Linked DNA regions of Homo sapiens. The protein of the gene in region 1 purifies or fractionates together with the protein of each later gene. This does not show direct contact. Each region holds a gene or a part of one and is shown on either strand. Other genes may lie near its edges.

Region 1 (7,051 bases):
GCCTCTCCTATGGCAAGCCTCTCCTATGAGGAATAGATGCTGCTGGAAGGAACAAGACAAAGATGTTTACAACATTCCTAATCACCATTTCCTGCATCTAACTGCATGTTTTCCGGGTTGCTAGGCTGAAGAAGTTCTGCAGAAATATTTAAAGTCCAAGGAGTCTGTGAGTCATGCAATATTACAGACTGACCAGGCTCTCACAGAGACGGAAAAAAAGAAGAAAGGTGAGAAGAAAGTGGAAATTATGCAAGATAGAAAGAAATCTATAAATTTTAAATAAATTTGGCCTGGCCCTCATGGGATGTTAAACTAGAGCAAGAATGGCAAAGATGCTTCTTAGCTCCTCAAGCATATCTGACTGGCATGATCCTGCATTGTGGTTACCTGGAAGGGAAAAACAACCCCTGGGAATTTTATCCAGGAAGTTGGAACAATCACAAACAAAAGTGGGAGGCAGAAGGAAGAGGCACATTAATCCTAGAGAAGATTATCTTTTTCTCCTCAGAGGCACAAGTGAAAGCAGAAGCTGAAAAGGCTGAAGCGCAAAGGTTGGCGGCGATTCAAAGGCAGAACGAGCAAATGATGCAGGAGAGGGAGAGACTCCATCAGGAACAAGTGAGACAAATGGAGATAGCCAAACAAAATTGGCTGGCAGAGCAACAGAAAATGCAGGAACAACAGATGCAGGTATTCATCAATTGTTTCATCTCTCCCCTGCCTGTAACGATGAGAGTATGTAGCAGTGGCAAAGAGGGAGAGGCAGCAAGATCTTGTGGCTCTCAGCAGGGAGTCTGGAGCCAGAAAGTCTGGGTATGAATCCAAGCTCCACCTCTTAGTAAGTATATGGTTTAGGCAAGTTATCTATCACCTCTGTGCCTAATTTTCCTCTTGTGTAAAATGGACACAGTGATGATATCTATGTTATAGGGTTATTTTGATAATTAAATGAGTTAATATTTGTGTTTAAATGGTGCCCGATACAGAGTAAGCACTATATGTTGTTAAATAAAAACCAAGGCATTTCTGGGCTGCAGTAACTGGTCTTTCCTGTTGACTTGTTAATTGTCCTGGATGATCTTTTGCTTTGGTCATAGATACTTTGTTAATCTGATTTCATGTTACTGTGTCTATGCCCCTGTTCTTGCCTTGATCATCTCTGTTCTGAAGGCCTTTAATTTGCCAGTTTGTTTCATCCGGTCCTTTACTTTTATTTACCAATCACTGTCAGTAGTTACCAAGCACTCTCCAGTAGTTATTATTTATCAGTCACTGTCATAGCACTTTACATGCATTATCTCATCTAATCCATTCACTGTAAAGCAGAACTACTGTGTCCTCATTTTTCAGATGAGATAAGTGGGGTTTCAAAGAGATAATCAATGCAAATATCACACAAGCCTAGCACATTAACAAAACTGCCTTCCAAATGAGTGGAATCTGCAGTGTTTTTGCTTCTTCAGACCTGGTGTAAAATTCCTATGTCAGCACCCTAATGAGACAAATGACATCCTAATTCTTCCCCTTGGCTTGCCAGTTTGTAGGTACTAGTTTTTCAGAAGTTACTCTAAAATATTTCTGATTGCAGCTCCTTCCTAAAGAGCAGTATGAGCAGCATGTGGTTATTTATGTATTCACTCTTTTCTCCTACTTCTGTGGTGACCTGGAACAAATTCTCTTATGTATGTAAAGATTGGACAGCCCACCTGATTCCGATGTCACTTAGATACACTGTTTTTGTATCAGCCTCTTCTCTTAGAAATATATCTGAGAGTCTCCTGTGTGTGTATGAGAATTGAAGTCAAGATGTGACTAAGATTGCCCAAGGAGATCGTGTGGTTTAAGGGGGAAGGGAGCTTTGGTTTGGAATCCTAGGGACACCAATATTCCAGGGATGAGAAATGACCATTTCTGGAGCTAGAGAAAGACAAGGAGGGTGAATAATTACAGAAATAGGTTAGATGCACGTGAATGGAAGAGAGATATTCAGGAACTGTTTACTGCTACTGTAGATGAAAAGAAGTAAGGACAAGTGAGTGATTTAGGCAATCAGTAAGAAGCTTGATCTTACTTTCTATTTATCACTCTTTAGGAACAGGCTGCACAGCTCAGCACAACATTCCAAGCTCAAAATAGAAGCCTTCTCAGTGAGCTCCAGCACGCCCAGAGGACTGTTAATAACGATGATCCATGTGTTTTACTCTAAAGTGCTAAATATGGGAGTTTCCTTTTTTTACTCTTTGTCACTGATGACACAACAGAAAAGAAACTGTAGACCTTGGGACAATCAACATTTAAATAAACTTTATAATTATTTTTTCAAACTTTCATATAGAGTTATAAGATTATGATGCTGGTATCTGGTAAAATGTACATCCCAGTAGTCCAATAGTTTAAATGTTTATTGCTTCCTTTAAGAGATTATAAATTGTATAAGGGACATTGTATCACTGCCTTCATTTATGCGTGATATTGGGATGGTTTCATCAGGAGATGCTTTCCTTGCATCTCAATGTCATCTGTCTAATTTCTCATAAGGGGATTATGTTACCTAGAGCAGGGCTTCCCAACCCTCAGGCCATAGACTAGCTCTGATCTGTGGCCTCTTAGGAACCCGGCCACACAGCAGGAGGTGAGCAGCAGGTAAGTGAGCATTACAGCCTGAGCTCCACCTCCTGTCAGATCAGCAGTGACATTAGATTCTCACAGGAGTGGGAACCCTATTGTGAACTGTGCATGCAAAAGATCTAGGTTGTGTGATCCTTGTGGAACAATATAAACCAGAAACCAATAACGCCACCCCACCTCCAACCCCCGCCAACCCTCTGTGGAAAAATTACCTTCCACGAAACTGGTCCCTGATGCCAAATAGGTTGGGGGACCGCTGACCTAGAGGGAGTTATGCACATGGGCTTATAAGGTTAGCCAAGAGAAAGGACAAGAAGACCCAAAGTCGGCAAGCAAATTTATTAACCTGCTGGGCTGCTCTACAGAAATCTGAGGAGGCAGACACCGGGCTTACAGGCTAAGGGGTATAAGTAGGTCTGCAGGGGTTTTGTGTGTGTGTGCGGGGGTGTCGGGGGGGCAAGGCCATTTGTGGAGACTTTTCCTCCCAGTATGGCCACATCCTGCAGTTTGTCAGTTTTTGCCCCCGCCTGGCTCAGGGTACCAGGATGTGGTTTAGCTTAGGGGTGGTTATAGTGGCACCTAAGTTCTGGGAACTTGCGGTGGGGGCGACCTTTTGGACGAAAAATAAGCTGCAGGGCAGCTAGGGGAGGGGGCTTGTTATATTCCTCTGGGGGCAGGGTGTCCCTAACTGGGCTCAGTCGGAAGGAACTTGACCAAAGTCTGGGCTCAGTTGGGCATCACTCAGGCTAATGGTCGTGTGCTGGATGCCATCAGAGGGAAGTACCAATGGTAAAGTGGAAACAATGTGCAGCTTTCAACTGGGTGGAGGCTGCTATTCTGTGGACAGTGAGATGTTTCCTTGGCACTGTCAATAGACAATCTGCGTAGAGAAATTCCAAGCTGAAAGCCAATAATGTTATAATAAAATAGAGATTCTTCAGAAGATGAAAGGAATTACCAGCATGGAAATTGTGTCATAGGCTTAAGGGCTAAAGAAGAAGCCTTTTCTTTTCTGTTCACCCTCACCAAGAGCACAACTTAAATAGGGCATTTTATAACCTGAACACAATTTATATTGGACTTAATTATTATGTGTAATATGTTTATAATCCTTTAGATCTTATAAATATGTGGTATAAGGAATGCCATATAATGTGCCAAAAATCTGAGTGCATTTAATTTAATGCTTGCTTATAGTGCTAAAGTTAAATGATCTTAATTCTTTGCAATTATATATGAAAAATGACTGATTTTTCTTAAAATATGTAACTTATATAAATATATCTGTTTGTACAGATTTTAACCATAAAAACATTTTTGGAAAACCATAAATCAGTTCCTTTGTTTGTATTTTTCTCAAAGTTAAAAGTCTATAGAGAAAGACTGAATTTCCCTAAGGAGATTAAGAATTGCTTTAAGACTAGAATTAAAACACACTTTATTACATCTTTTTATGTACTTTTTGTTACTTTGTTTTGTATATCTCCAGTAAAATTTTTTTTGTTTAAATTATAGAAACATTACACAAAGCTCTGTTTTTCTCCCTTATAAGTACTTACTCATATAAGGAATTTTCCACTTAGGTAATATGATAGGAGCTTGAATTTTTTTAGTCACCCAAAATATGATTTACTTATATACAGAAAAAAGCCGAAAAATTTTAGTGTCTGCTCTTTTTACTGTTCTTTGAAGAGCTTTAATATGAGGAATTTTTCATATCAGATAGGATGTGGTGCTACTCAGCAGTATTTCTAGATTTGAACTGAAGTTCAGAAGGTACCAGCATATTCAACTGAGCATTTGTCTAGCAATACCCTACAATTACCTTTTCAAGCTGTGCAATTTATAAAGAAAAAAATACATTTTATCATCCAAGGAAATGTTATCAGTAAAAAGAATAGCTCTATCTCCAAATTAAATATTGATATCTTTATTACCCATCTTAAAGAAATTTTTTAAAATCCTGAGACTCAGAAAATTAAGTCATTTAAGGTTTCACACCTTGTTACTGTTAACCTAGACCATGTTACAAAGTAGTTGATTTCTAGTCTAATTTAACTTTTGCTATTATATCTCCCCCACCAAAAACCAGAGAGGCATGCTGCTTTCATTAGTGATCCACAGATATTCTTCCCCACCAGCTTCCCTGGATCCCACTCATCCCCAAATACTCTGATCTCACAGGTTAGAGATCTGTCACTGGGTGCAAAAGAACAAGAAAAGGCACTGTAAGGTAAACATTGATGATTTCTTGAAACTACCAGTAAGTAGCTTATATTTTCTGACTTTCTTTGTCTTACTGTTGTGAAATCAACTGATCTAGTTTTAAATGTAATGAAAAGCAAAGCAATAGATTCTCCCCTAGAGCCTGCAGATGGAATGCAGCCTTGTTAACATCTTGATTTAAGCTTCACAGACTTCTGATTTCCAAAACTGTAAGATAATAAGCTTCTGTTGTTTTAAGCCACAAAATTAGTAATAATTTGTTATAGCAGCAATAGGAAACAAGTACAAAATCTTTATTAGTTAATACTATGAATAGTTATTCATACCAGCTAAGAGATATTTGGAATTTATTATGGATCACTTTATTATGGTCACTGTAGTAATTCACCTGTTGCTCATAAAAACCTTATAAACATTTAGTATTGTTTTATGGCAATTGTTATTTTAAACAATATTATCAATGTATGTTAGTGTTATCATTATTAAAGTTATTATTGTTAAAGCATTGAAATTAAATAAATTAAGGTCAGTACCACAGAAGGCCTTTTGAATTTAGAACCCACATTAATAACCATCTTGTGGTACTTTCTTATCTTGCTTAGTGATACGGTTTGGCTGTGTCCACTCAAATCTCATCTTGAATTATGGCTCCCATAATGCCCACGTGTTGTGGGAGGGACCAGGTGGGAGGTAATCAAATCATGGGGGTGGGTTTTCATGTGCTTTTTTCATGATAGTGAATAAGTCGCCTGAGATCTGATGGCTTCATAAAGGGCAATTCCCCTGCACATGCTCTCTTGCCTGACACCATGTAAGATGTGCCTTTGTTCCTCTTTCATCTTCTGCTGTGGTTGTGAGGCCTCCCCACCCATGTGAAACTACAAGTCCATTACATCTCTTTTCCTTTATAAATTACCCAGTCTTGAGTATTTCTTCATAGCAGTATGAAAATGGACTAATATACTTAGGAAAACATAGAAATACTGAATAATGTGTTAAAATTTAGAAGGAATTACTAAAATAATTGAAATCAAAAGCATAGATTCAAAACAATGTATAAGAATTCAGCACAAAATAAGCAGGTAAAGAAATTTCTAAAATGAAGTAGAGAAAATGTGGTAATGACTCTAGTGTATAACGATCACCAACAGAATAGAAAGTCCAAAAAATAGACTTTATAGGAATAATACAGGGTAAAGATAGACTTCTTAGTAGGTTGGGACTACTGGATGGCCATATAGGAAAAGATCAAGTTGTAACCAGACCTCACACACAATACACTAAAATAAGAAAAAGGAACCACACCCAAATTGATAAAATATAAAATGTAAAACTATGAAAATGCATTTGAAGAAATCAAGGTTATGTTCTTCATAAACCTGTAGAGGAGAGGGCCTTTCTAAATGTGACTCAAAACTCTTGAAATCTCTCTTGACCCCATGTCTCAGTCAGTTTCAACACAATCTTTGTTCCCTTTCAAAGCAATATTTTAGTTAGTTACATCCCATTCTCTGTTTTTCAAAATTATTAAATGTGACACATACTGAAGAGTACAAAAAACATAAAATGTACAATATTCAATATAAATAAATTACAAGATGAACGCACAAGTAACAACCCAGGTACATACATTCAGCATTACTAAAATTCTATAGGTGTATATGACAACTTCTGACAACCCTGCTAGAGCCAACTAATATCACAACTTTCACAACTATTTTCTAGGATTTTATTATAAACATGTGAGCTCCTAAGTAATGTAATTTTGTTTGGCCTGTTTTCAAACTTTATTTAAATGGAATTACATTGTTTGTATTCTTTTATGCCTTGCTTCATTTGTTAATAAAATCTTTATAAGATTCATCTAGTTCATTGTGTGTAGTTGTAAGCTATATATATTCTACTGTTTAAAGATAACAATTCATTCTACTATTAATACATATCTGGATTTTCAGGTTTACCTTATGAAATGTTATTAAGGACATTCTTTTTTTTTTCTGTTTTTTTTTTTTTATGAGACAGAGTCTCACTCTATCACCCAGGCTGGAGTGAAGTGGCATGATCTCGGCTCAAGGCAACTTCTGCCTCCCAGGTTCAAGCAATTCTCATGCCTCAGCCTCCCAACTAGCTGGGACTACAGGCACACACCACTATGCCTGGCTAATTTTTGCATTTTTAGTAGAGATAGCGTCTCACC
Region 2 (3,818 bases), about 88 Mb from region 1:
TCCAGTCGGGAGCCCGCTGCCAGGGTCTCCTGCACAGCCAGGCACCGAGAGACCCGGCCTGCTCAGCATCTCTGCCTATGGGCACCCTTGGAGCAGAGCAGGGCTCAGGGCTTGGTCAGCCCTGGTGGCCACGGGACGAGAAGCCAGGTTGGCCACGATGCCACGGCACCCCCATCGCGGGGGCACCATGGAGGCAGAAGCCCACGGCCGTGGGGCTCAAAGCCACCTCGTGCCTGAGGCTCCTCCCGGGAGGGTGGGAGGGCAGCCCTTCCCCTGGGACCCTGGAGCCTGGGGAGACGCTTCTCATGAGGGGGGCTTGTCCCCTCTGCTGAGGCGGGAAGGTGGGTCCAGGGAGCGGGGACTCACCTGGGGTGCTAGGGAGGCCCCCGCACCTGTGAGTGCCCCGGAGGAATGTGGCAGGACCGAGGGCCAGGCTGATGCACCGCAGGGAGAGGTTGGGGGAGACCCTGCAGCCCCGGGGCCTCTGCTGCTCCGAGGACGCCGCACTGGGCTGAGGCTGAGGCAGCTCCTCGCTCTGCTGTCCCGGACGCTGCACTGGGCTGAGGTTGAGGCAGCTCCTGGGCTCCAGGGTGACTCTCCGCTTTCTCCCCCACAGCTCCGGCCCTGCAGCCTGGCGAAGCCGTAAGTAACCCACATCATCCGGGCTGAGCGTCCCTGGCCGCGTGTGCCTGTGCCAGGCCATCCCGAGTCCTCACTCTGCCTTTCTCTCCTTTTCAAGGCTGCAATGATCCCCCCGCCACAGTCCTCAGGTAACAGCAGCTGTCGCATCCCCCTGTGGGGTTTCCCATCTCTGGGCCAGTCCCAGGGTGCTCTGTGGGTTTGTCCCCAAACGGGTTTGCCTGGCTCTGGATCTCGGCCACCCCTGCCCGGGTCCCCAGGAGACCCACCCACAAGGCAGGGCCAGGGCCGGATTTGGCTGGTGCCCCCTGCTCTGGATCTCAGCTGGATTTGGCCGGCGCCCCCTGCCCGCCCCCCTTTAATCCCCGTGACTTCCATGCTCTTTCCTGTTCCCGAGACGTGGGGTCTGCAGGAAAGGAGGACCCACCACGACAGGGCAGACCCCCAATACCTGCTCCTCCTTGAAGTCCAGCTCCACCCGAGGACAGACGCAGCCGGCCTCCGCCAGGCCCTCCTGAGCAGCCATCGCTTCAGTGGTGCTGGGTCAGGCGGACCCAAGAGTCAGCCCGGTTAGGACCCATTTTATGTGCGGGGCCACAGACACAGGCTGAGTGACCGGCGCACAGCCACACAGCTCCAAGGCCATGAGCAGGGCTCACCCGGCCTCCGTCCCCCTGTGCAGAAGTCTGTCATGGGGGCAGGTGACCGTGCCTTTAGGGGACAGACCGTTCTCCATCAAGGCTGGACGTGCCCCGTCCCTAAAGCAGCCCTGTCTGCAAGTGCCCAGCAGACCCCACGGTGCCCGAGTGCCCCGGGGCTGCCAGCTTCAACAGCAGACCTTTAATCTGACTATCCTAGAGTTCAGAAGTCCAAAACCAAGGGGCAAACAAGGCCACACGCTTCCCGAGGCTCCGGGGAGGACGCTGTCTGCCTTCCCAGCCCCTGCCGGCTCAGGCATCTGTGGCTGCGTTGCCCGTCTCTGTCCCCTGGTCCCACGGCGTCTCCCCCACCTCTGCGTCTTCTCTCTCTGCCTCTCTCTCAGGTGGGCCCTGGCCGTTGTTTCAGGGCCTGCCCGGGGAACCCTGGGCGATCACACCTGAGACCCTGACGTAACCCCCTGCAAAGCCCCTTCTTCTAAATAAGGTCACATTCGAGGTCTTGGGACTACGGCCTGCTTGTCGCCCCCTGAGGTGCATGATACTCTGGGACCCACATCTCTGTCTTCGGGGATCGCCTGGCCCTTGTCCAGGCCCCGGGGCCCAGGGTGTAAATGAGAGGACACAGCCGGGCAGGAGGAAGCCGTCCCTTTCCCGAGCTGGAGCTCTGAGGGCGCCTTAGGGGCAGGGGGCATCTGGGTTCCCACCTGGTCAGAGTAAACAGCCCCGGGCGCCTGTGCCATATGCCCACTCCCGAGAGCCTCCGGTGAGGGCTGAGGCCTGCACTGTCCCTGCTGTCCAGGTCCCACTCTGACCTCGCCTGTCTCTGACCCGTTTCAGTACGGAAGCCGCGCTACGTCAGGCGGGAGCGGCCCCTGGACAGGGCCACGGATCCCGCTGCCTTCCCGGGGGAGGCCCGTATCAGCAATGTCTGACCTGGAGGCCGAGACCACGCCACGCACTTGGCGGCAGGGACCCGGAGGCCGACCCCTTGGCGGGAACCAGCACAAAGTGTTGGCATCGCCCGGCGCCCGGGACAGTCCTGGGCACAGCCTCGGCTCTGAGTCCCTCCGCCTCCCAGCGACGGACGCCAAAGGGTCCCGGGCCGCCTGAGGCTCCTCCCCACCACAGCCATCTCGTTTATCGGACCAGGAGCAGGCATCCATGAGACCTCAGAGCTTCAGATCGAGGCCTTGGGGGGTCCGGGCCCCCCCAGGAAACACGGTGAGGCCCCAGCGCCTGCAGCCAAAGCTGGCACGATCTATGGGGCAGGTGCCGCTCTGCCTAGAAAAGCCAGGGGCTCTGCTGCCGTGCCCTCCAGAGCCCACAGCGGGCAGGACTCCTCCAGCACCACCACACCCAGTGGCCCGAGACCCCTCTGAGAACAGTGAGGCTGGTCCTCGTGCCGTTCCAGCCGGTGCCCGGCCAGTGGGGAGGACACAGCCTAGGAACCAGCTGCCTGAGACCAGGGTGCCTCTGGGCTGTCCTCCCGCGTGGCGGAGACCCCAAGCACGCAGCCACCCATTTCCGGAGCTGCAGGATAGAGCTTCCTCTTGATCTCTGTTTTTAAGCAGAAATTCATTGTGCAGAAAAGTCCTCCAGAGCTCTGTGGCCCCGCTCGGATCCGCTGGACCCCCATGCCTGGCTGATCCCTGCCCACGTGGGGCAGGCCCACATCTAACCCCCACAAGTCACTGCCTCACTGCACCTGCCAAGGCTGCCCTGGCGCTGAGTCCTGGGGTCCCTCCCGGAGTTCCTGGGAGAAAGGCGCCGTCGTGGCCGCCTCCCGCACGCCAGGCCCGGGCTCCACCGTGGGTCTCAGACGCCCTGCGGCACCGGCACCGTCTGCTTTAGCATGGGACCCCCCTCTGAGGGGTGGCCTGGCCTTCGGGGTCCCCACGCTCCTTTGCGAAGTCCACTGTGGGTGCCATCATGGTCTCCGGGACCTGGGCCAGCGGGAACGTGGGGGCACTGGGTGTGCTGATATAAAGTCGGCATTACTCAAGCTGCGTTCCGAGCTGCTCTCTCCCGTAGGATGCTCTGTTCTCTAAGTGCAGGTCGGGGAGCAAAGCCCCCGCCAGGCTGGCCCCACGCACTCCGCCACCGTGTGCTGGGGGCAAGGAGGTGGGACGGGGGTGGAGGAGAGTCCAGGTTGGGGCTGCCTGGTTGGGACCCCCCGCCCCGCGCCGCACATTTTCTGCCACAGGCCCATTCCCCAGATGCAACCTGTGCAGGTGGGACCTGTGGTCCCCGAACCCCCAGCTCGGAGTGAGGTGGGACAGAGTGTGGGTGTGCGTTTCCATCGGCCGGCCGGGCTGCGTGGGGGCTGCAGACACGGGCCCCGGGAGGGCTGCCATGGCCATCTGGGGGGGCAGCAGTGTGGGGGTGTTTGCTGACAGTGATGGGCCTGGCCAGAGAGGGCTGAGCTGGGGCAGGACAGGCCTTGAGGGCAGAGGGCCCGGGCACCAGGATGCCAGAGCGCGGGCCCTGCTCTCGTAACCGTGCCCTCCACCCAGGCAGAAA
Region 3 (3,870 bases), on another chromosome or scaffold:
GAAGAGACACACAGGGCAGAGTCTGGGAGGATTTCAGGTGTGAATCTTCATTGTCCTCAGGAGGCTGTGTTCTCCTGTGTGAATGTGGGACAAAACACATGCGGTGTTGCCAACCAGGGAAGCTCACCCAGTTAAGGAAAAATTCCTGTGAATCACATTAAACCAGAAATGAAGCCTTTATTCAGGATTGTTGTTACAGGGGAGGGAGACTGAGCCCAGCTCCAAATATAGTAAAGACAGAGGGGGAGTCACAGCCAACACCAGGGTGGGGGCGGGAGATGGAACAGGACTGACAGGAGACGCCAGAGTGGGGGGTTCCTGCTAAACTGGCCTAACAGGATTCTCGCCAAAGGCAGGTCAGACCCTCAACCACCAGTGGTGGGGGTGAGGAGCATGATCAGATAACAAACGGTGCTCAGACAGCAAGCGGGGAGGACCCTCCCTAAACTGATTTGGGGAGATTCTTGCTGAGCCAAGGTGGTGCAAGTCCAGAAAGCAGTGGGTGAGTGTGGAAGGCCAAGGTCGGCGCCTAGTGGAGAAGAAGCTCTGAAGAGCCCAGCTGGAGTTGGTCAAGGAGAAAGTCCTTCTTTCTCAACCCATGCCTTAGTGTCCAGAGTATCTGCTGGGGCTGGATCACAAGCTGCCCTCATGGCTAGAGTCTCCAGCCCTTCCCTGAGATCTCACACCTTTAGTCCCCAAGTCCTCTGGAAGTCAGGAAAGACACCAAATAGCCCCAAACCCTATCATCCATCACATCGCTATACTGTCCCGTGGCCAAATCACCAGGCAAAGAAAGATGTTCCTACCAGGCAGGACATTCCAGGGGCCTGGAGATCACTTCCCAGGAGCTGAGGACAAAGGGAAGGCCTCTCTTTGGGTAAAGTTCATGCTTCACTTTCCTGCCATCCTGGTAATAAGGTCTCTTTGTCTCACTCTCACTGCTCTTTGTTCATCTGCAGAGTTTTCCCTCTCCAAACACTTTGGCAGTCACGGTGTTGACCTGCCCTTGAGTGAGGAGGCATCTTTATCAAACACCTACCATGAAAGAGCATCTGAGGTGCCTTTAAGATATTTATTTCCATATGGAATAAGTACTGAGGAATATCTATGATGAACAAAATGTGTTTGAGTTTGAAAGATAATTAATTCCATTTGTAAAATTTGTTTCTATTTGATTGATAGTGAAAGCTCTGCAATTTACACAGGATAGAGATCGCATGGAGCTCATTTCACAGATAGGGAAACTGCATTTCTTAATCCTTTAACCTTTCCTTGTGCAGGGATGAGGCAGATGAGCTCCGTAAAGCTCTGAACAAGCTTGCAAGTCACATGGTCATGAAGGACAAAAACCGCCACGATAAAGACCAGCAGCACAGGCAGTGGTTTTTGAAAGAGTTTCCTCGGTTGAAAAGGGAGCTTGAGGATCACATAAGGAAGCTCCGTGCCCTTGCAGAGGAGGTTGAGCAGGTCCACAGAGGCACCACCATTGCCAATGTGGTGTCCAACTCTGTTGGCACTACCTCTGGCATCCTGACCCTCCTCGGCCTGGGTCTGGCACCCTTCACAGAAGGAATCAGTTTTGTGCTCTTGGACACTGGCATGGGTCTGGGAGCAGCAGCTGCTGTGGCTGGGATTACCTGCAGTGTGGTAGAACTAGTAAACAAATTGCGGGCACGAGCCCAAGCCCGCAACTTGGACCAAAGCGGCACCAATGTAGCAAAGGTGATGAAGGAGTTTGTGGGTGGGAACACACCCAATGTTCTTACCTTAGTTGACAATTGGTACCAAGTCACACAAGGGATTGGGAGGAACATCCGTGCCATCAGACGAGCCAGAGCCAACCCTCAGTTAGGAGCGTATGCCCCACCCCCGCATGTCATTGGGCGAATCTCAGCTGAAGGCGGTGAACAGGTTGAGAGGGTTGTTGAAGGCCCCGCCCAGGCAATGAGCAGAGGAACCATGATCGTGGGTGCAGCCACTGGAGGCATCTTGCTTCTGCTGGATGTGGTCAGCCTTGCATATGAGTCAAAGCACTTGCTTGAGGGGGCAAAGTCAGAGTCAGCTGAGGAGCTGAAGAAGCGGGCTCAGGAGCTGGAGGGGAAGCTCAACTTTCTCACCAAGATCCATGAGATGCTGCAGCCAGGCCAAGACCAATGACCCCAGAGCAGTGCAGCCACCAGGGCAGAAATGCCGGGCACAGGCCAGGACAAAATGCAGACTTTTTTTTTTTTTTTTTTTTTTTTTTGAGATGGAGTCTCGCTCTATCGCCCAGGATGGAGTGCAGTGGCTCAATCTCGGCTCACTGCAAACTCCGCCTCCCGGGTTCACACCATTCTCCGGCCTCAGTCTCCCGAGTAGCTGGGACTACAGGCACCTGCCACCACGCCCGGCTAATTTTTTTGTATTTTCACTGGAGACGGGGTTTCACTGTGTTAGCCACGATGGTCTCCATCTCCTGACCTCGTGATCTGCCCACCTCGGCCTCCCAAAGTGCTGGGATTACAGGCGTGAGCCACCGCGCCTGGCCAAAATGCAGACATTTTATTAGGGGGATAAGGAGGGCAAGGTAAAGCTTATGGAACTGAGTGTTAGTGACTTTGGCATTTGTGTAGCTGAGCACAGCAAGGGAGGGGTTAATGCAGATGGCAAGTGCACCAAGGAGAAGGCAGGAACACTGGAGCCTGCAATAAGGGAGGAGAGAGGACTGGAGAGTGTGGGGAATGGGAAGAAGTAGTTTACTTTGGACTAAAGAATATATTGGGCGAAGAATAGAGGGGGAGCTTGCAGGAACCAGCAATGAGAAGGCCAGGAAAAGAAAGAGCTGAAAATGGAGAAAACCAGAGTTAGAACTGTTGGATACAGGAGAAGAAACAGCAGCTCCACTACCGACCCCCCCCCAGGTTTGATGTCCTTCCAAGAATAAAGTCTTTCCCTGGTGATGGTCTCTCGCTCTGTCTTTCCAGCATCCACTCTCCCTTGTCCTTCTGGGGGTGTATCACAGTCAGCCAGTGGCTTCTTCATGATGGTGGTTGGGGTGGTTGTCATGTGACGGGTCCCCTCCAGGTTACTAAAGGGTGCATGTCCCCTGCTTGAACCCTGAGAGGCAGGTGGTAGGCCATGGCCACAATCCCCAGCTGAGGAGCAGGTGTCCCTGAGAACCCAAACTTCCCAGAGAGTATCTGAGAACCAACCAATGAAAACAGTCCCATCGCTCTTAGCCGGTAAGTAAACAGTCAGAAGATTAGCATGAAAGCAGTTTAGCATTGGGAGGAAGCACAGATCTCTAGAGCTGTCCTGTCGCTGCCCAGGATTGACCTGTGTGTAAGTCCCAATAAACTCACCTACTCACCAAGCTGGACTTGTTCGAGTCATTCTTTGGTCTCTCAGCTCCTTCTAAGCTTTGGGGGCCATCAGTCTCAAGTTTTTCTCGTAATGGTGGTGATGGTGGTTGTGATGGCAGCAGAGTGGTGGGGGCCTTGGCAAGTGGTCGGTGCTCTTCCAGACCAGGGGACACCGATGGACCGATGAAGTTCCAGGGGAACTTGAAGTGCTGTGTTGGAAAGAGGTTAATTTGGGAAGAAAGGAAAAATGAAAGGAGATGCCAGGAACAGGTCAAGGAAGCTTGAGGTGTGTCCAGGAGTTCAACCCTGCTTGTGGTCATGAGACTTCACCCCTCTGAGCCTCAGTTTCCTCATCAGCTGTAGAAGGGGGCTGGAAAAGGTGATATCTCAGGTCCACCTTGCTCTCCCCATCTTGTGTTCTGGAGACTTGAGTCAATCAGCACTGACTGATGGCTGTGACTTTGTGGTGCCGATGGAGGCTCCCCTGGGCTCTGGGTGCCTGACTTAACCTTCCTCATGATCCTTCTTC

What was found. Proteins that work in one complex are often made in the same cells at the same time.
Region 2: the proteins of GBP5 (region 1) and C1orf159 purify together in Homo sapiens (affinity purification with mass spectrometry; 2 studies listed by BioGRID and IntAct, with this or other methods). This does not show direct contact.
Region 3: the proteins of GBP5 (region 1) and APOL2 purify together in Homo sapiens (affinity purification with mass spectrometry; 2 studies listed by BioGRID and IntAct, with this or other methods). This does not show direct contact.

The regions. Positions count from the first base shown.
Region 1 is NC_000001.11:89,255,859-89,262,909, reverse strand, and holds the end of GBP5 (guanylate-binding protein 5), read left to right. Parts: intron 1-124; coding exon 125-227; intron 228-508; coding exon 509-690; intron 691-2,092; coding exon 2,093-2,206; 3' UTR 2,207-6,721; downstream 6,722-7,051.
Region 2 is NC_000001.11:1,081,305-1,085,122, reverse strand, and holds the end of C1orf159 (uncharacterized protein C1orf159 isoform 2 precursor), read left to right. Parts: intron 1-616; coding exon 617-642; intron 643-739; coding exon 740-770; coding exon of another isoform or gene 771-1,208; intron 1,209-2,135; coding exon 2,136-2,230; 3' UTR 2,231-3,300; downstream 3,301-3,818.
Region 3 is NC_000022.11:36,225,691-36,229,560, reverse strand, and holds the end of APOL2 (apolipoprotein L2), read left to right. Parts: intron 1-1,280; coding exon 1,281-2,157; 3' UTR 2,158-3,352; downstream 3,353-3,870.